Linked DNA regions of Homo sapiens: region 2 is linked to region 1. Evidence: fine-mapped expression QTL. A gene starts in region 1. The other region holds a variant in brackets. All regions are shown on one strand. Distances are from middle to middle.

What was found.
Region 2: its variant is fine-mapped to the expression of CTNNBL1 in spleen (GTEx, PIP above 0.99).

The regions. Positions count from the first base shown.
Region 1 is chr20:37,688,874-37,699,067 of GRCh38, reverse strand. CTNNBL1 (catenin beta like 1) reads right to left here and starts at 5,038. Exons shown (of 16, transcript NM_030877.5): 1 at 4,916-5,038. The coding sequence starts at 4,945. LOC105372609 (a long non-coding RNA gene) reads left to right here and starts at 7,792. Exons shown (of 4, transcript XR_936703.1): 1 at 7,792-7,885; 2 at 8,118-8,205. RefSeq lists a silencer at 1,568-1,717 and an enhancer at 4,701-4,760.
Region 2 is chr20:37,635,481-37,645,674 of GRCh38, reverse strand. No RefSeq gene overlaps it. Among named protein-coding and RNA genes, the nearest start is that of LINC00489, 17 kb to the right of the region's middle. The variant C/A (reference allele first, on the strand shown) is at 4,181.

The DNA.
Region 1 (10,194 bases):
TGTTTGTTTGTTTTTTGTTTTTGAGACAGGGTCTTGCTCTGTCACCCAGGCTAGAGCACAGTGGCATGATCTTGGCTCAGTGTAACTTCTGCTTCCCAGGCTCAAGTAATCCTCCCTCCTCAGCCTCCTAAGTAGCTGGGACCACAGACACACACCACCATGCCCAGCTGATTTTTAAACTTTTTGTAGAGACAGGTTTTCACCATGTTGCCCAGGCTGGTCTGGAACTCCTGGACTCAAGAGATCCGCCTGCCTTGGCCTCCCAAAGTGCTGGGATTACAGGGGTGAACAACCACGCTTGGCCTCAAAGAACTTTTGCATCCATAAACTCATGACTTTCTGCAAGAGGATGGGTGCAACTGATTATGAACTACATTCCAGCCTTTACCATCTTTTAGGAACAGGAAGAGTGGACATGGATCTTACAAAAAGAAAACTGAATGAACAGAACACATGGGGAATGTACAGAGTTGGAAATAAGGAGACCAGGATTCTGAGATAAGGGCCAGGTGGTGTAAGGAAGCCAGGGCCTGAATAAGGTCCTGAGGTGGATTTTGGGACTGGTGCTGCTTTCCAAGCCTTAGACCATGATTCTGAATTTGGGTTCTGAAACTTAGCCTTGAATTGAGGATATTTCGCTGAGCAAAGGCCTAGAGCTGGTTTTTGGTGCCTAACGGGTGGGCCTCTCACCTCTCGAATGGTTCTAGCCGGCCAATTAACCAAAGTGGGGAACCTGCGATGGGGAAGGAGATGCTCCTGGCTGGCCAGCTGGACATGAGCATGCCCGCCCTAGGCTGGCGAGATCAAAGTGCTCTCCAGTAGCAGACTTAGGAGGTTTCAGCCCTGTTACTGGTTCAGTTCAGTGTTGTCAACCTGAATTAAATGAGTTCTAGTATTGTAGTTCCTTATTGTGCAACCAACATATTTGCATTTTAAAACTCTTAGATTGAACCCTCAGATACAATAGAAAATGTAAAGGCCAAGATCCAGGATAAGGAAGGCAAGTAATATTTTGCAGTTCAGGAAAATTAGCCTGTGGCAACCCCAATCTACCTGTAGGCGCTAGGCATATTTGCTCTTGGTGAGGGGGAAAGGGGTCAGATTGACAAAATGAAATACTTTTGGAATAACACAATAAACAAATGTTTATGATCACGAAGCAAAGCTACCTAGATTGGAATCCTTGAGGTACATTTCACTTGTGTGAATCTGGACACGTTTTTTATTCTCTATACCTATTCCCTCATCTTTAAAATGAAGGTTCCTATATTAACATATTAAGTACTGCCATTAAGATTAAATGTGGTAAGATGTGTAAACATTAAAAAATAATAATAAGGAGACCAGGATTCTAGTTTCAACTCTGGCCACCATCTTGGCCCACAACCTCAGGTGAGTCCCTTTATCAGACTAAGGTTCACTTTCATCCATGAACAAGTGGGTTGAATGAAGGTATCTACCGTATCTCTCAAAGTCAAGGTCTTTATCGTGGCCCACAAGGAAGGCCTACATAGTCTTGTCACATGCCTACATCTTCAGCTTTGTCACTTACCATTCCCCTGCTCACTTCCCGTTTCAGCTACATAGATCCTCTTTCTGGTCCCCTATGAGGCTGCACCAGCTTCTACCAATAGCCTATGTCCATACTTGCTGTTCTTGCTGCCTCCATCATTCTGCTCCCTTCACATGACTGGGTCCCTCTCAACCTTCAGTCCTTTAATGCCCATTCCTCTGTGTCCTTCCTCGACCACATTACATAAAGTAAAAGGTCCTGTCCCCAACTCCCAGGGGTTATTTTCGACAGGAGTGTTGTCCAATAAAAATACAACAAAAGCCACAAACAAAACACCTAACTTTACATTTTCTTTCTTTTTTTTTTTCTTTGAGAGAGAGTTTCGCTCTTGTTGCCCAGGCTGGAGTGCAATGGGATGATCTCAGCTCACTGCAACCTCTACCTCCCAGGTTCAAGCAATTCTCCTGCCTCAGCCTCCCAAGTAGCTGGGATTACAGGCATGCACCACCACGCCCGGCTAATTTTTTATATTTTTAGTAGAGACATGGTTTCTTCATGTTGGTCAGGCTGGTCTCAAACTCCCAACCTCAGGTGACCCACCCGCCTCAGCCTTCCAAAGTGCTGGGATTACAGGCATGAGCTACCACACCCGGCCCACTTTACATTTTCTAGTAGCCACATTTTAAAAGTTTTTTAAAAAGCAACATTAATTTTAATAATATATTTTCTTTAATCCAATATATCGTAAGTGTTATCATTTATTCAACATGTAATCAGCATAAAAGTTAAGGTACTGTACATTATTTTCACGTGGCCAGGGGCAGTGGCTCACGCCTGTAATCACAGCACTTTGGGAGGCCAAGGCTGGCAGATCACCTGAGGTTGGGAGTCAAGACCAGCCTGACCAACATGGAGAAACCCCATCTCTACTAAAAATACAAAAATTAGCCAGGCGTGGTGGCGCATGCCCGTAATCCCAGCTACTCAGGAGGCTGAGGCAGGAGAATCGCTTGAACCCAAGAGGCAGAGGTTGCAGTCAGCTGAGATCTCACCATTGCACTCCAGCCTGGGCAACAAGAGTGAAACTCCATCTCAAAAAAAAAAAAAAAAAAAAAAAAAGATATTGTACATTATTTTCATACTAAATCTTTGAAATCCAGTGTGTATTTTGCACATGTAGCAGATCTAAATTCGAAACTAGTCACATTTTAAGTATTCAATAATCACATGTGCCTAGTGGCTACTATACAAAGCAGTGCAATTTTATAGCATACTCTGCTATATTCCCTTCCCAGCACTTACCACAAACTGAATGCATTGTTTACTTATTATCTTGTAACTTCCCACCAGATGCTCCACAAAAGCAAGAATCTTGTCTTTTATTCAGTGTTGTATACCCAGTGGATAGACTGCCTTGCACACAGTAGGTGTTCAATATATATTTGTTGAGCAAATGAATGAAACTCTTCTAGCTTTAATGGGCTAGCCATTCTAGAAATTCCAAGCCGGCATACAATCACTGATTTAATAACTTGCCTATTTCCCTTCATCTTTCACTATCAATTAAACTGTCTTTAAAAGAAAAATCTCTTGGCTATATAGCTCCCCATTGCTGAACTGTTCTTTCCCATGATGTCTTAAGCGTCCAGGGTCAATTTCTTGTACTTTGGCTGAGGGAGTGGTATGAAAATAACTGCTAATATTTACTGAATGTTTACTCTTTGGCAAGCATTGTCTAAGGACTTTCCATTTCTCAACAGCTTCACAACAGCCCTGTGAGGCAGCTACCGTCACTGTCCCCCATTTACAGATGAAGAAACCAAGGCAGAGAGAAATTAAGTATTTTGTTCAAGGTTACAGCAGCCAGTTAGTAGCAAAACAGAGACTGCCAGCAACCTAGGGGTCCAGACTCATGGCTCTTAATCACCTATTCTTGACTGCAGGGCTGTCTAACAAAAATATAAGCTGAACTATATATGTTGTTTTAAATTTTCTAGTAAACACATTAAAATGTCAAGAGGGGCAGTTAAAATTGGTTTTAAACATATTTTATTGGCTGAGTGTGGTGTGTGGTGGCTCATACCTGTAATCCCAGCACTTTGGGAGGCCAAGTGGGAAGACTGCTTGAGGCTAGGAGTTTGAGACCATCTTGGGCAACATAGCAAGACCCTGTCTCTACAAAAAATTTAAAAATCAGCCAAGCATAGTGATGCCTGCCTGCAGTCCTAGCTACTTGGGAGGATACCTTAGACCTAGGAGTTTAAGGCTACTGTGAGCAATGATTGTGCCACTGCACTCCAGCATGGGCGACAGAGCAAGATCCTGTCTCTAAATAACAATAAAATAAAATTTTAAAAATTAATTAAGTATATTTTATTTCACCCATTATCCAAAATATGATCATTTAATCAATATGACCAATAACCAATGTAATTGATATAATCAGTACGATCATGTAATCAATATAAAAATTTCACTTTTTCCATACTAGTCTCCAACCCAAATGTGTCTTTATACTTACAGTATTTCTCAATTCAGACTAGTCACATTTCAAGCAATCAACAGCCTATGTGGCTAGTGGCTACGACATTCGGCAGTGCAGCTCTACTGCTCCTCGCAATGACCCTCCTATGGAATCAAAGTGGGGGAAAAACTTTGGGGTGGAAGTCAGTACGCCTGAGCTCAAATTCCAGCTCCTTGTTTCTGAGTGACTTTGGACAAGCCCTTTCTGCTCTCTAGGTCCCATACAGTTTCCCCACAAGTTTCCTAGGCAAGGGGGACCCTGAGCAAGATTCCTAGAAACTCATTCCATGCTAGAATTCCCAACATCTCCTGCAAATCGCAGTAAACACAAGCACAGCTTTCCACACTTTAAAACCAGCTTTCATACATATCAGTTGGTACAGTCCTCAAACAACCCTACTAAGGCAGTTATTAGTGTCTCCACTATATAGATACAAAAACTTGGTTCAAAGAGGGGGGGAATGACTTGTCCAAAAGCCACATAGCCAGTCAGTGGAGAAGCTGGAGATCAAATCCAAGTGAGACCAGTGCACTCCCACCGCCGCCACCACCATCACCTCAATGACTGGGGGGACATGAGAGCTGAGAGGACATGGTTGTGAAAAAAAGGATAGTCTGGGGTTTCAGAGGAGTTTCAGGGAACCAGGCCCCAGGGTGAGGAAGAGGAGGTGAAGGGCTCAGGTCTTGAGAAGGGATGAATCGAAAGGGCCCAGGAGGGCTTCGGAGAGCAAAGTAAAACGAGGGGCTGAGACCCCGGGTGGCATGAGAAGTTAGAGGGCCCGGGAGTGAGGCGAGAGGAGGTGAGATGAAAGGGCTCTGGCTCCTGCGACCCCTGCCCAGGTGAGAACGCGGTCGCTCGGCCCTCCCTGCCCCTCATACCTGGTAGCTCAGAAGTTCGCCCACGTCCATGGTACCCGGCCCAGCAAATACTCCACTTCCCTGCACTCACGCCCAGACCGCGGGCCCGTCAGCCGCGGCTCCAGCCACACTGCCGTAAAGTGCGGCGAGCGGAGCCGCAGAGCCAATAGGGCAAAAGTGCGAGCGACAAGCGAGCCGGCCACACCGCGGTAAAAGGACGCGCCGCCGTAAAGCGCGCTGCATTTGGAACAGGGTTGCTTCCGCCTGGAGCCTGAGGGGGCGGGGAAAGGGGGCGGAGACTTAGAGGAGGGGCGGGAGGGGAGAGCAGGGACCAGAAGAAACCAAACTTGATTGCGCGTCCCTAGTGTCCAGGGCGGAGTGCCGGGTGTTTCGTGTGCGCTCTCACGAGCTTCCAGTGATTTATCCTCATTTCACAGAAAAGGAAACTGACGCTCCCAACTGCACCATCCAATACTTTACTCACTAGCCACATATGGCTACCGAGCGCTTGAGATATGGCTACTCCGAAGTGAGATGTGCCATAAGTGTAAATAAAATACACACCAGATTTCTAAGACTTACATTGATTACAGGTTGAAATGATATTTTGGATATACTGGGTCAAATTCATATATTATAAAATGAATTTTACCTGTTTCTCTTTACTTCTTAAATGTGGTTAGTAGAAAGTTTTAAATTACACATGTGGCTCTCATTTGTGGTTCCCATTAATTTCTATCAGATAGTGCTGGCTCAAAAAGTGACTTGTTCCAAGGCTGTACAACTATTACTGGCTGAGAAACTATTGGTGATCACATGTCCCTCTCTAGGCTTGTGTCTGCTCATCTATGCGAAGTCTAACGGTCACTAGATGATCCCCTTGCTACCCAGGTGATATAAAAAGGTTTCTGGAGGAGAAAGTTGCCCATAATTGGAAGAGAATCATTCAGAGTGCATCTGATCTTAAACAAGATCAGAATGCACCTGGGACTTAAGGCTCCATCTTCAAAGGAAATTAAACCTCCTTCCATAAGCCCCTGTCCTTTATATTTATAATTATATTTATGTATTATATTATATTTATATGCCCTTCATATTTATAATTTTGGTCCCCATCCCATCTGCACTGGCTCCAATTATACAGAAATTATTCTTATTCCTCAGAATGACAAATCCTCTCCCCTTCTGCCTGGCCATCAGCACCATACCTCATCCAATTCTCTCATCTTTCGGGTCTCAAATGTCACTTTCTTACAAGGGCTTCTTCAACTCACCCTGGTCCAGGTAATCAACCTCTCTCCTCATTATTCTTTTTCCAAGTACCTGCTCCACTACGTATATATCTCATTCTGTAATTTTGTGCTTAATGGTTGACTATTTGTTTCTTGACAGCCTCATTTACTGGATTGCAAGCTCTATGCAAGCAGGACATGTGTGTGTCATGTTCACCACTGTATCCCCCAAGCCTAGTACAGTGCCTGGTAGAGGGAGAGGTTTCATAATGGGCCTTGTGTGCCATGGTAAAGAGATTAGATTTTGGCTAGGCGTGGCCGGGCGTGGTGGCTCACGCCTGTAAGCTCAGCACTTTAGGAGGCCAAGGCGGGCAGATCACTTGAAGTCAGGAGTTTGAGACCAGCCTGACCACCATGGTGAAACCTCGTCTCTACTAAAAATTACAAAAATTAGCTGGGCATGGTGGCACATGCCTCTACTTGGGAGGCTGAAGCAGGAGAATCGCTTGAACCCAGGAGGCAGAGGCTGTAGTGAGCTGAGATTCCACCACTGCACTCCAGCCTGGGTGACAGAGCAAGACTCTGTCTCAAAAAAAAAAAAAAAAAAAAGAGAGAGAGATTGGATTTTATGCTAACGGCATAAGGAAAGTTTTAAGCAAGGTAGTTTTGTGACTGGGCTTATGTTTTTAAAGGATCACCTATGCAATCTGCATTGAATTCAGTCTATTTGGGTGTCTTTCCCCCTCCTACTTATATAAGAATATGGACTGTGCCCGGCCGGGTGTGGTAGCTCACGCCTGTAATCCCAGCACTTTGGGAGGCCGAGGAGGGCAGATCACGAGGTCAGGAGATTGAGATCTTCCTGGCCCACATGGTGAAAACCCATCTCTACTAAAATACAAAAAATTAGCCAGGTGTGGTGGCACGTGCCTGTAGTCCCAGCTACTTGGGAGGCTGAGGCAGGGGAATCGCTTGAACCAGGGAGGTGGAGATTGTAGTGAGCCAAGATGGCACCACTGCACTCCAGCCTGGCGACAGAGCAAGACTACGTCTCAAAAAAAAAAAAAAAAAATAGAATATAGACTGTGCCTTGTTTGGGAAGACAGGAGAGAGTAATGGTGAGGGTGTACCCTTTGGACCCAGACCCCTGTGTTCTAGTTCATGGTATGTTGATGCCAGCTTGCACAGACAGGTCTACAAAAGCCCATGGTTAAATTTGTAGGAAACTTGCAAGCTGATTGACACCAGGTTGATAGCTTGAAATCAGCCATGCTAGGAGTATTTGTACAATGTAAATCAGCAAATGCTACAAATCAGGGTTGTTAATGTTGTTGTTTTTCCAGAGAGCTACTTGTAGGGTTTTTTTGTTTCTTTGTTTGCTTTTGAGACAAGCTCGGGCTCTATCACCCAGGCTGGAGTGCAGTGGCGGGATCTCAGCTCACTGCAACCTCCCCCTCCCGGGCTGAAGCCCACCTCAGCCTCCCAAATAGCTAGGACTACAGGCGTGCGCCACCATGCCTGGCTTATTTTGTTGTTGTTGTTGTTGTTGCTGTTGTTGTAGAAATAGAGTTTCACCATGCTGCCCAGGCTGGTCTCAAACTCATGAGCTCAAGCAATCCCCCCGCCTTGGCCTCACAAAGTGCTGGGATTACAGGCATGAGCCACTGCACCCAGCCGAGCCAGTTGTTAAACATCTACCCAACACACCCTGATTCTGGTTCTAGTGGAAGTTCCACCATATCTAGCCATGGGTCCTTGGGTAAGTTACTTTCTCTGTCCCTAAATTACACTTTCCTTATCTGTAACATGACTCATTCATTCATTCATTCATTCAACAAGTATTTACTGAGAGCCTACTCAATGCTAGGCACAATTCTGGGCTCTGAGGATATGGAAGTTTATAAAACAAAGCTCCTGCCTTCTGGAAACCTACATTCTAGTTTGGGTGAAAACCTCATGGAGAAAATGTTGATATGAGTCTTATTTTACAGATGTGGAAACAGTGGCAATGAACTTCACCTCTACATGCCTGATTTTCTCACCTGCAAAGTGGAGATTCAACCAAATCTACCTCATAAGGTTATGGAGGGTTTACATGAAATGCTGTATGCAAAGCACTTGGCACAGTGCCTGGCACAGAAAAGTGCTGTGTGTCTTATATTAATATTGTAAGGAGTTGGCAGCTGGGCACGGTGGCTCATGTCTGTAATCCCAGAGCTTTGGGAGACCAAGGCGGATCCCTTGAGCCCAGGAGTTCGAGACCAGCCTGGGCAACATAGTGAGACCCTGTCTCTACAAAAAAATAGAAAAAAAATTTAGCCAGATGTGGTGGCACGTGCCTGTAGTCTCGGCTACTCAGGAGGCTGAGGCTGGAGAATCACTTGAGCCCAGGAGGCAGAGGTTGCAGTGAGCCAGGATTGTGCCACTGCATCCTGGGTGACAGAGCAAGACCTTGTCTCTCAAAAAAAAAAAAAAAAAAAAGAAAGAAAAAGGAGTTGAGTGGGATAGGGGCAAGGGAGAGGGCAGGAAGAATGAGAGAATTCCTTATAACCTTTCCTTTTTAGGCAATCAGTCTTGTCTGTTTTTGTAGAGACCAGTTCTAAAACACAGAATTATAAGGCAAAATCCTATAAGAACCAGGTTTGGTGAGCACCCTGAACTGGGGCTAATGTGCTCTGCTAGAGGTTTCCCTGAGAACGTAACATCTGGACAGGGGTTTAAAGGGAAAGAAGAGTTTACCAAGAAGATACAGTGGGAGAATGGTGACCCAGGCAGAGGGAACAGCATGAGCAAAGACAAGGCAATTGGACCCTTCCTTGTGGACAGAGCTTCAAATGTGTGGAAGAAAAGGTGGAGAGGCTGGCTGGAGAAGATCACGAAGAGGGTTAACAGATTTAGCAAATAAAAATACAGGACACCCAGTTAAATCTGAATTTCAGACAAATAATGAATTTTTTATAAATTTGTCTCATGCAATATTTAATAACATACTAAAAATGTTTTCTGTCTGAAATTCAGAATTAAATGGGCATTATTTATTTTATCTGGCAACCCTAATCTTGGAGAAACTTGAATGCCAGATTAAGATATTTTCATTTTATCTTGATGAGAGGGTCCATTAATAATTCTTTGGGAACCCCCAGGAATGAGACTTGGGGCGCTCACCCTTCAGGTCTCAGCTTAATTGCACACATCAGAGGAATCTTTCCTGACCACAAGATTTAAGACAGTTCCTCCCCTTCAAGATTCTCTATCAGCATTCCTGACCATTATTATCTTCAGAACACTTATTGTTTTTGTTTTTATATTTGTTTGCTTTTTACCCATTTGTGGACTGCTTTCCCTTCCAGATTCTAAGCTCCAGAAGAGCAAAGATTGCTGTATCATTTACCACAGTAAACTCAGAACCTAACACAGTACCTGGCACTTAATTGTTACTCACTAAATAGTTGTTGATTTAATAAATGAACCAACTAATCTACTGATTGATTGATTCATTAATTCCTGGTCATAACAATCTCAAATACCTTCAAATTCTCACCCAAAGGCCAGGTGTGATGCCTCCTACCTATATAATCCCAGCACTGTGGGAGACCAAGACAGGAGGATCCCTTGAGGCCAGGAGTTTGAAACCAGCCTGAGAAACAAAGTAAGACCCTGCCTCTACAAAATAAAAATAAAAATATTAGCTGGGTATGGTGGCATGTGCCTGGAATCCCAGCTACTCAGGAGGCTGAGGTGGGAGGATCACTTGAGCCAATGATGTTGGGGCTGCAGTAAGCCAAGATCACACCACTGCACTCCAGCCTGGGCAACAGAGCAAGATCCTGTCTCAGAAAAAAATTTTTTTTTTACTTCTCACCCAAAATCCTAACAATGTGACTATTTCAATTTTAAAGACAAAAAAAGGAATGCTCAGAAGAGCTATGTGCTATGCACCAAGCAGAATGAAATTGTGACGATAATGATTTCAGAGTGGCATCCAGGAGGGAGTTAGGAGAAGAGCACCATTCAAGAGACCAACTGCTGGGCTGTAACCTTTAAAAAAAATGTGGAAGAATTACCCCT
Region 2 (10,194 bases), 53 kb after region 1:
AGCCCCAGTTCACTGATGAGAAAGCTGAGGCTCAGAGAGAGGGAGTGAGTTACTCAAGGTCGCATGGTAGTGGGTGACAGACACTGGACTTGCTCCCCGGGCTGCCTGACTCCCAGCCCAGTGCTCCTTTCATGACCCCCCAAGCCCCCAGCACAAGTAGAGAAGAAACCACTGGGGGCCAGACCATCTTCTCCCTTCTTGGACCTAAAATTGACTCTGACCCTAAGGAGTCAGGGCCAAGAACAGTGAATACCCATTTCTACAGGGCTCCCTTTCCTAGCTAAACTTCCATTCACCTTTTTAGACTCAACTCAGATAGCGCCTCTTCCTGGAAGCCCTCCCAGATGGTCATAGGCGGCCTCTTTTGGGGCTGCCACAATATACAGGGCGTATCTTGATCCTACACATTGCCTTAGAATCACTGTGTCCCCAGTGCCACGCAGGCAGCACAGAATGACAGAAGCTGCTGTAAATGCTTGTTGAGTGGATCAATTAATTAATGACTCCGTATTTTTCAGAACAAACTCATCAAAGTGAATTCCACTTACTACCCTCCAAGACAAGATTTATACAAAATGTGGTCACTTTAAAATGAAACAAGAGATGAGCTATTCCCATTTCTTCAAAGCCCTATTAATATTTCATTAGCTACCAGAAGTAGTTGATATTTGTATCTTTGTGTGTCTCTGTGTATAAGTATGTGTATAGACCGTATCTGCCCACCTAGCATTTCTAAAATATGTTCTTTGGACCAGTGAGTGCTGCAGCATAGGAATAGGGTACTATTGGGGGGAAAAGAGGCAGATTTCATGGCCAGATATGTTTGGAAAGCCCTGGATTTAAGATGTATCCATTGCAGGACTTCTCAGAGCCTTTAAGGGTGGCATTTATTGGGCATTTACTATATTCCAGGCAGTGTGCTAAGCACTTTACATTCATTACCTCATTAGCTTATATTCCTCTAGAATGTAAGCTTCTTGAGGACTGACACCATGTCTGTCTTGTTCACCAGCATATCCCTGGAGACTGACACACTGTATCTACTCAATTAATGAATAAATTAACAAATGAATAAATGGCCCTGTAAAGTACATATTGTTACTATTCCCATTTGATAGAGGAGGGAACTGAGTCTGACTACAGAGCCTGGGCTTTTTAACTCTGTTGCTGCTCGTCTTCACTGTAGTAACATGCCTGGCAGATCTGCGGGACAGAGTTCTTGCCTACAGCATTTCCAAGCCTGATTTGCCTAAAAACCTTTTTCTGAAGAAGTATCTTGCAGAATAGGATCATGAGGAACATACCCTAGGAAATGATCCTCTGGGCTCTGCAAGCTGGGTGAGCAGGCCTCCTTGTCTCTGATTTGTCTCCCTAGATGACAGTGCATACAGACTGCAGGGCAGGAGGGAGGGAGAAGCAGGGTATTTTTCTGCTCCCTCTACTCAGGGCAAGGTCTCCACTAGCTGCATCTCCTCCCTGGTTTCTAGTCTTTGGAAAGGCAGCCTCTCCCTCTGTGGTTCCAACTCCTTCTAGGTAGCCCCAACTCCTGGGCTCTTTCTTGTAACGTTGCTTCCTCTTTTGGCCAGGTACGGAGGCTCACGCCTGTGAGCACTTTGGGAGGCCGAGGTAGGAGGATTGCTTGAGCCCAGGAGTTTGAGACCAGCCTGGGCATATGGAGAAACCCCATCTCTACAAAAAATACAAAAAACTAGCCGGGCGTGGTGGTGCATGCCTGTAGTCCCAGCTGTTCAGGAGGCTGAGGTGAGAGGATCGCTTGAACCTGGAGGTGGAGGCAGCAGTGAACTGTGATCACGCCACTGCACTCCAGCCTGGGTGACATAAGGAGACCTGTCTTGAAAAAAAATCACTCCTGTCTTTGTTCCTCCAGTCTTGGGGTTCTTTCTCTCACAGCATCCCATTTACTTGTGCAGCACCCACTAGTCCAAAGAGGATGCCTTCGTCAAATGGTGAATATGGTCTGTAGCATCTTTTCTGCTATTGATAATCTCCAGCCACTGCACTTTCAACTCTTCCAAACCACTGTCACGATTTTGCTAGATTCATGCTCTCCACTGAGCTGCCTGATGCAACACTGACTAATACAACCACCTAAAACAGTAATAGCAATAATTTCACAAACATTCACTCAGCATCATGAATGTGTTAGCTCATTTGATCCTTGTAACAATCCCATGAGAGGTATTCTAATTGCCATCACCGTACTATGGATGAGTAAACTGAGTCCTTGGGAGGTGAAGTAACCTGTTCCAGGTCATACAGTTCATGAATGGGAAGCTGGGATGTGAGCCAAACACACTGGGTCCAGAGCACTATTCCTACCCCCAACCCCCCAGATAACAGTAATAGACAGTTCCTGGGGGTCAGGAAGATCAAACAGAGCCCTTTGTGCCTTTCAGTTCCTGGAGCACAGTAGAGTTCTAGAGGCCTTTCTCCTTGTCTGGTAGTGAGCTTTTCAGCCCTGGAGGTGTGCAAGAAGGGATTGCAGCACTTCTTCACATGGTATTTAAAGGGAACCTCCTTTCATTTGGTCCCCTTCACTAAACCAAAATGAAAAATATTAAATTTGAAAAAAAAATGGAAGCAAACCTCCTAGCAGTGGTCATCCAGGTGAACCAGATGGTGTTTAAGGCTCCCCAGGCTTCTCTTCCCAGTCCCCTGAAAGATGAAGCCACTTGTAATGTCATCAAGACAGGGTCTTTCGAGATCCTGATGAAATACCACCTCTGCTATGAAGCTGCCCCAGGGGCCCCAGCAGAAAGGAGAATTCCCTTTCTGTCACTCAGCATGGCTTTTTATCTCTGCTGTATAGAGCCAAGCTTGCATTATCAGGTTTGTGTTTGGGTCTTCTATGGCCTGCTGGACTGGAAGCTCAGGGAAGATAGAAACTGACGCCAATGCATAGACCTCCTTCTATAGCCCAATCCAGTACCTTGTATGCTATAGACACTCAATAAGTGAATAAGTGTTGGGTGAATAGATAGACAGATAGATGGAAGGATGAGAAAATTTTAAAAAGGAAGAAAGAAGGAAGGAGAGAGAGAGAAATGGGATAGGTGGATGGGGGAGGAGGGATGAGCAAATATGGATGGATGGATGGACAGATGGATGATGAAAGTATGGATCAATGGGTGGATGAAAAGATGGATAGATAGAAGAATGTATGTATGGATGTATGGATGGATGGAAGGATGGGAAATGCATATAGATGGCTAGACAATAGATTGATTGATAGATGTGAGAAGGTGATGGATAGAATGAGTGGATAGATGGATGGATGGGAAGATGGATAGATGAAAGGATGCATGGATGGATAAATGAAGGGATGCATGGATGGATGGATGGATGGATGGATGGATGGATGGATGGACTGGGTAGATAGTTAGATAAACGTATTTATAGAGACTGTGAGGTGTTGTGCAGTAGACACTCTAGAATTTCTATGTGGGGCCCACAATCTGCCTAGAAGGTGGGCTTGCCACCATATTTGCAGAACACTTTACATAAGATTGAGAAACTAGCTATTGCCCATGTGAATGAAATGAGAAAGAAGTGACAGAGATTATGGAAGCCTAAAACCCCTGCAGCTGCCACTGCAGGTGTGACCATAATCACCTAAAATAGTAAGATTCTGAAAATCTGTGGCCCTAAGAAGATTCAAAGGTTTTAAAGTTCTGTGTCTCTAAAACTTAGACTTGAAGATTCTGTGTCTTTAAGAACTCTATATCTACCAATATGAGCAACATGCTCTGTGCCGGGCATTGTTCTAAGCACTTTAGATACAAAGATTAGTTCCTATAATCCCCACGGCCACCCGTGGTCTAGACACTATTACACTATTACCACCCTCATAATGAGGCACAGAGATGCTGAGGTGTTTGCCTTAGATAACACAGCTAGTAAGTGGCAGAACTGGGATGTCAACCCAATCAGGTTAGGCGGGATCCAGAGTCCCCGCTTTTAACCACCACACAATCCTGCCTCAAGGAATGAAGGATTGTACGCATCTAAGTTTCGAAGATTCAGTGCTCAAGACTTGAAGAGTCTGCAATTCTGAGGCTCTAAGCGTCTCCACACCCAGGACTCTTCAGACGCTGAGGGAGAGAAAAGGAGAGAGAGTCTGGCTGGCTCCTACGAACACCAGCCCTGCTGATGTCAGGCA[C/A]CTGGCTGTCACTCTTCCTGTTAACCTTGGGGAGAAAAACACATTTGTGGCAGATAACAGGCATGAGGGTGTGCCGGCCCTCCACTCACTCCCGGGCCTGATGGATGGGCTACATGGGCCCCCCCGACCTGTGTGTGTACTGTTATCTGCTCAGCCAAGGGAAGCTGTTCATCATGCCGACAGCTTGGCGAGGCACACCTGCTGGGACTGCGTCAACCAGAGCCACCAGCATCCTGGGAGGAAGAAGGGGAGGTGATGGGGGGCAGTAGGGCAGGGGAGACACAGAGAAAAGGGCCAAGGGCTCAGTATCAGTACCAGAGGGTGGCACTAAATTCTGGGTACCATGGATGTGCTGTGTGACCACAGACTAGTCACTTAACCTCTCTGAGCTGTAAAATAAGATTAAGCTTTGCCAGAAACCTGGGGGTTGTACTTTCCTCCTTCTCATGCTCCACATCCAATCACCAGGTTCTGTCCATTCTACCTCCCAGTCTGTCGTGATCCTACCCATTTCTTACCAACAACTCTACCGAAACCACCTTGGTCCAGGCCACCATCATCTCTGCCTGGATGATGCTACAGCCTTCTCCCTGGGTTCCCTCCTTCCTGCCCACTATATTCCATTCTTCACATTTTACAGTTCAGAGAGGTTAAGTGACTAGCCTCTGGTCACACAGCACATTCATGGTACTGCCAGGAACGGAAGTCTGGCATCACGCCCAGAAGTCAGTGCCACGGCAGCCAGAGGATCTCTATTACAAAATGAGATCACATCACTCTCCTGCTTAAAACCCTCTAATAGCTCCCTGTCACACTTAGAAATAAGTCCAAACTCCTTGCCAGAGCCCTGCAAAACCTGGCCTCTCCCGCCCTGTCCATCCTTATGTCACACCTGCCAGCCCCCTTGCGTACCAAGTTTCAACCATGCCACCCATCCCTTTTCCACCTCTTAGCCTTTGCACATGCTGTTCCCTCGGATGCGAACACTCTTCCCCAGCCCTTTGCGTGGCTGGCCAGCTCCCTCTCATCTGCAGCTCTCAGCTCAATTGCCACCCCCTCAGAAAGGTCTTGCCAGCCTGAAGTACTACTCCAGTTCCCAATCTCACTCTGTCACGGCACCCAGTGTATTCCCTTTCTGGGACTGATTGCAACCTGAAATTGTGTTGTTTGTTTCTTTGTGTGTTTATTGTCTGTCTCTCCCACTAGAATGGAAGCTCCAAACGTTATGGGTTGTTGTCTTACTCACTACTGTGTCCCTGAGTGCTTCCTCAGTACAAAACCACACATTCTTTCCACCCCAGGGCCTTTGTGCCAGCTGTCCCTTTGCCTGGAACTCTCTTCTCTGCTTATTTAACGCCTACTCACCCTTCAGATCTATGGCAGGGCATATTTTGCAAAGATAGGCACAACAGCATCTTTTATCTTACGTGTTCTTTATAAAATATGACCTTGAGACTTGTCCTGGGAAGAAGTGGGGCCCGTGTTCCCTTCCCTTGATTTGGGGCAGGCTATGACTTGTTTGTGGCCAATAGGATGCCATGTAAGTGACACTGGGACACTTCTGGAAGGAGGTCAAGGACATTGGCTCTGGAGCCCTAAGCTACATTTAAGCAGCATGACTGTCCTGAGGATGCCATGCTATGAGGAAGCCCAAGCCGGCCTCTGCAGAAAGACCACATGGAGAATCCCTGAGATCACCTACAGAGAAGGAAAGAGATGTCCAGCATCTTCCAGCTGCTCCAGCTCCAGCCATCATCTAACTGAAACCTCATGAGAGACCCTGAGTCAGAGCTGCACAGCAGAGCCCTTCTGAATCCCTGATCCACAGAAACCACAAGCATCAACAAAAATTGTAGTTTTAAGCTACTAGGTTCATTTGTTATACAGCAATAAATAATCAGAACAAGATCTCAGTTCATGTGCCACCTTCCCAGGAAGCCCTCCATAACTAGGAGCACTAGGTCAGGACCCTGTACTTCCATTTTATTTTATTTTATTTTACTTTATTTAGATACAGTGTCCTACTCTGTTTCCCAGGCTGGAGTGCAGTGTCATGATTGCAACTCGCGGCAGCCACCATTCCCCAACTTAAGCGATCCTCCCACCTCAGCCTCCTGAGTAACTGGGACTTCAGGTGTAAACCACATGGCCAGCTAATTTTTTAGTTTTTGTAAAGACGGGATCTCCCCATGTTGCCCACGATGGTCTAGCACTCCTGGGCTCGCACTCCTGGGCTCAAGTGATCCTCCCACCTTCGCCTCCCAAAGTGCTGGAATTACAGGTGTGAGCCATCATGCCTAGCCTACTTTTTCTTTATAACATATAGCACGGTTGGTAATTATGTAGTTATTTATGTGATGGCTGATTTTTGTCTCTCTCTCTCTCACTTAAATATAAGCTCTGGGAAGGGGGAGAATAATCCTTATCTTGTTCACCATTGTATCCCCAACAGTGAATAGTGCCTGGCACATAATAAGTGTTCAGCGAATACCACTGATTCAATAATTTCACTAAGTTACTACAACCACCCTGTAATGCTGGCTGTATTACCTCCATTTTTCAGACAAGGAAACTGAGTGAGATTCAGAGATGTTCTGTTCTTGCTCAAGGCCACACAGCAGAGCAGGATCCTAGCCTGTTTCTCTCTGACTTGAAAGCCAGAGCCCACCTCCTGACAGGTGGAGGGATGGGGTACTAGCCTGAGGTCCTCTAAGTGGTAGCTGAGAAGGGCCACAGGTGTCCTTTTATGTAAACTTCTGTCTTACCCTTGCAGAGAAAGAGGCCCAGAGAGGGGAAGGGACTGGCCCAAGGTCACACAGCTCATCAATGTTCAAGCTGGGACAAGACCCGGGGCCCTACATTCTTTACCCAGAGCTCCTCTCACTGCACCCTCAAACCTGCCTTCAACACCTGCCATGCACGGAGCCCAGGACTAGACTCCAGGAGGGACAGACACAAGAAAATCAATGGTCCCTTTGTGGAGAGAACTCAAATGTCTACATAGTAAAGGGGACAAGCAGAACAATTATTTATGAAAATCAACTGTGTTCCAGACAAGCCTAAAAGACACTTTTCATGACAAGCCTGTAAGATACTCTCACAAGATATCCTTTCACAAGAGGAAGCTGAGGCTCAGAGAGATTCGAGGACTAACCCAAGGTCACCAGACTTATAATTGCCAGCTCAGAATTTGAATCCAGAGTTGTCTGTCTCCAGGATGCCCTCCAGTGTGCCAGGCTGTCTCACCAGAGCTAAGGGAGCCTCGAGGCCATGGAGAATGGGCTGGGCACGGTGGCTCATGCCTGTAGTCCCAGCACCTTGCGAGGCCAAGGCGGGTGGATCACTTGAGCCTAGGAGTTGGAGACCAACCTGGGCAACACGCTGAAACCCAGCTCTACTAAAAACATAAAAATTAGCCAGGCATAGTGTTACGTGCCTGTAGTCCCAGTTACTTGGGAGGCTGAGGTGGGAGAATCACCTGAGCCTAGGAGGTAGAGGTTGCAGTGAGCTGTGATTGCATCACTGCACGCCAGCCTGAGTGATAGAGGCCCCATTTCAAAATAAAATAAAAAAATAAGGACTGGGGGCTGGACACGGTGGCTCACGCCTGTAATCCCAGCACTTTGGGAGGCCGAGACGGGCAGATCACGAGGTCAGGAGATCGAGACCATCCTGGCTGACACGGCGAAACCCCGTCTCTACTAAAAATACAAAAAATTAGCCGGGCGTGGTGATGGGCGCCTGTAGTCCCAGCTACTCGAGAGGCTGAGGCAGGAGAATAGCGTGAACTCGGGAGGCGGAGCTTGCAGTGAGCCAAGATCGCACCACTGCACTCCAGCCTGGGCAACAGAGTGACACTCTGTCTCAAAAAAATAATAAAATAAAATAAAATAAAATAAAATAAAATAAAAATAAGGATTGGGAATTAAGGAAAGCTGCATGGAGAACCCAGCACCAAGGAGCAACCTGAGTTAGTCCCTGAAAGAAGTAGTGTGGTTTCCAAAGACTGAGCTGGGGAGAGCGTGTTCCAGGCAGAGGCAGGGCGTGTGGGCAAAAGTCTAGAGGTGGACAGGGCCAGCAAGTCTGGTGGCCCAAGCTGGAGGCATGCGAGTTGAGGCTTGGAGGGGCGGACTGTGCTGTTCCTGCCCCTCACTGCCTCTGCAGCCCCCAGTCACCTTCCCTGGCAGCCCACCCATCCCCCATCCACCAGAGCAACGAGTGGAAAATGAATGAGTCTGTTTATGAAGCCCATAATGTTGCCAGCAACACAAGGCACTCAGCGGAGCCGCTCGGCGCCTCTAATGGGATATTATTTATGTCATTTTCCTCCTGGCGCTGGAGCCATTACCACCCGGAATGGTGCTCCGTCACCCTCCACTCCCCCAGTGATGTGCCAATGTCATGCTGAAGGATGAGCGCTGCAGTTGTCATGGGCAGCACCTCACTGCCAGCCTCTGGACCTGAGCTTCGGAGAAGTGGCAGGGCAGGGGGGTGACGGGCAGCCCCCTACACCCTGCCAATATGAGGCCACTGGGCGCACGCCCGCCAGTGGGATCTAGCTTCTCTTGGGTTGCCGTTGGTGCCAGCCACCCTGCCAGGTGCTGAGAATCCTCCCATGGCTCCTCATTACCCTGCAGACAGAGCCCCATATTTCCATCTGTCAATAAGCCCTCTGGACTTTGGCCCCTGCCCACCTTCCCAGCCTTAGCTTGGCCTCTTGCGTGTAAGTTCTGTAATCAGACAGGCCTGGTCTCGTGTATCGTCCCAGATTGACTCGATCCACCTGTCCCCTCTTGCTCAATGAAGAGCCCGGCTGCTGTCTTTGGCTCTTCTTCTAGTCCAGCTGCCTCAGTTTCCCCCGGGTGAGGACTAGCCTTCTGCAGACACCCCATCAAGCCTGTCAAGCTGCAGCAGCTGACCCCCTGGGTCCAACTCGATCTGAGGGAGGCTCTTTCCACCACTTTCACATTCAGATAAAGCACCATGCTTAGGGCAGGGGATCAGGCTTCCCTAGTGGCTTCCTGGAGGGGCTGAGTAACAGCACTCCTTGCAGCAAATCAGGAACATTGACAACCATGAACCAGGAAGGAGCCGCAGACAAATGGACTATTCCAAAAATGGGAGGTTCCACATGGCTTGCGTATCTGCCACTCCAAGTGACCCAGCACCCAGTTGCATTGGCTCAAAAAGGTATGTTTCTACGGCCAGCTCAGAAACATAGCTCTTTGTGTTTGCTTCCTATTCTTCTCTATCTGCCACCCTGTCCCCCTTATTCTTGCTGCCTAAGAATTGCACCTGCCATAAAATATGTACACTTTGCTCCAGACTTTGTGTTTTAGGAAACCCAGGCTAAGCCATCTGGTTCAATCCCAACTTCATCACTTATTTGCTGAAAGATCTGAGACCAGTTAATGAACCTCTCTGAGCCTCAGTGTCCTCAGCTATAAAATGGAGGTGATCATCATCCTCACCTCACAAGGTTGTTGGAAGTACTCACTAAAATCAGGAATGCTTCCATTTCCTCCACTTCGACACAACTTCCCTTGCATCAAACACTGGCATGTACTATTTTCTTGGTCAAGAACACTCTCAATAACAATAACCTTGTTCATCCTCATGTTTACCTTACACACCTCCTTCTGGGGAACAGTCCCTCTCCCCAGGATGGGTCAGGGCACCTCTGCTAGACCCCACAATGCCCTCTGCTTCTGCCTTGATTTCACTGAACATTGTACTGTATTTACTCATGTATCTGCCTCTGTCGTTAGACTGAAAACTCCATGAGGGCAGGGCTGTGTGTTTTGCTCACTGTTATACCCCTTGTACTTAGCACAATGCCTGGAATATAGTATGCAAGCAAATGAATGAATGATCTTATTTAATTCTTGCCACAACTGTGTTGTAGGGATTATCTCCATTTTGTTTTCTGATTCATCAATTTCTGCTTTTGTCTTTTAAAATTCCTTCTCTCCGTTTTCTTTTAATTTACTTTGTTATATTTCTAGTATTTACTT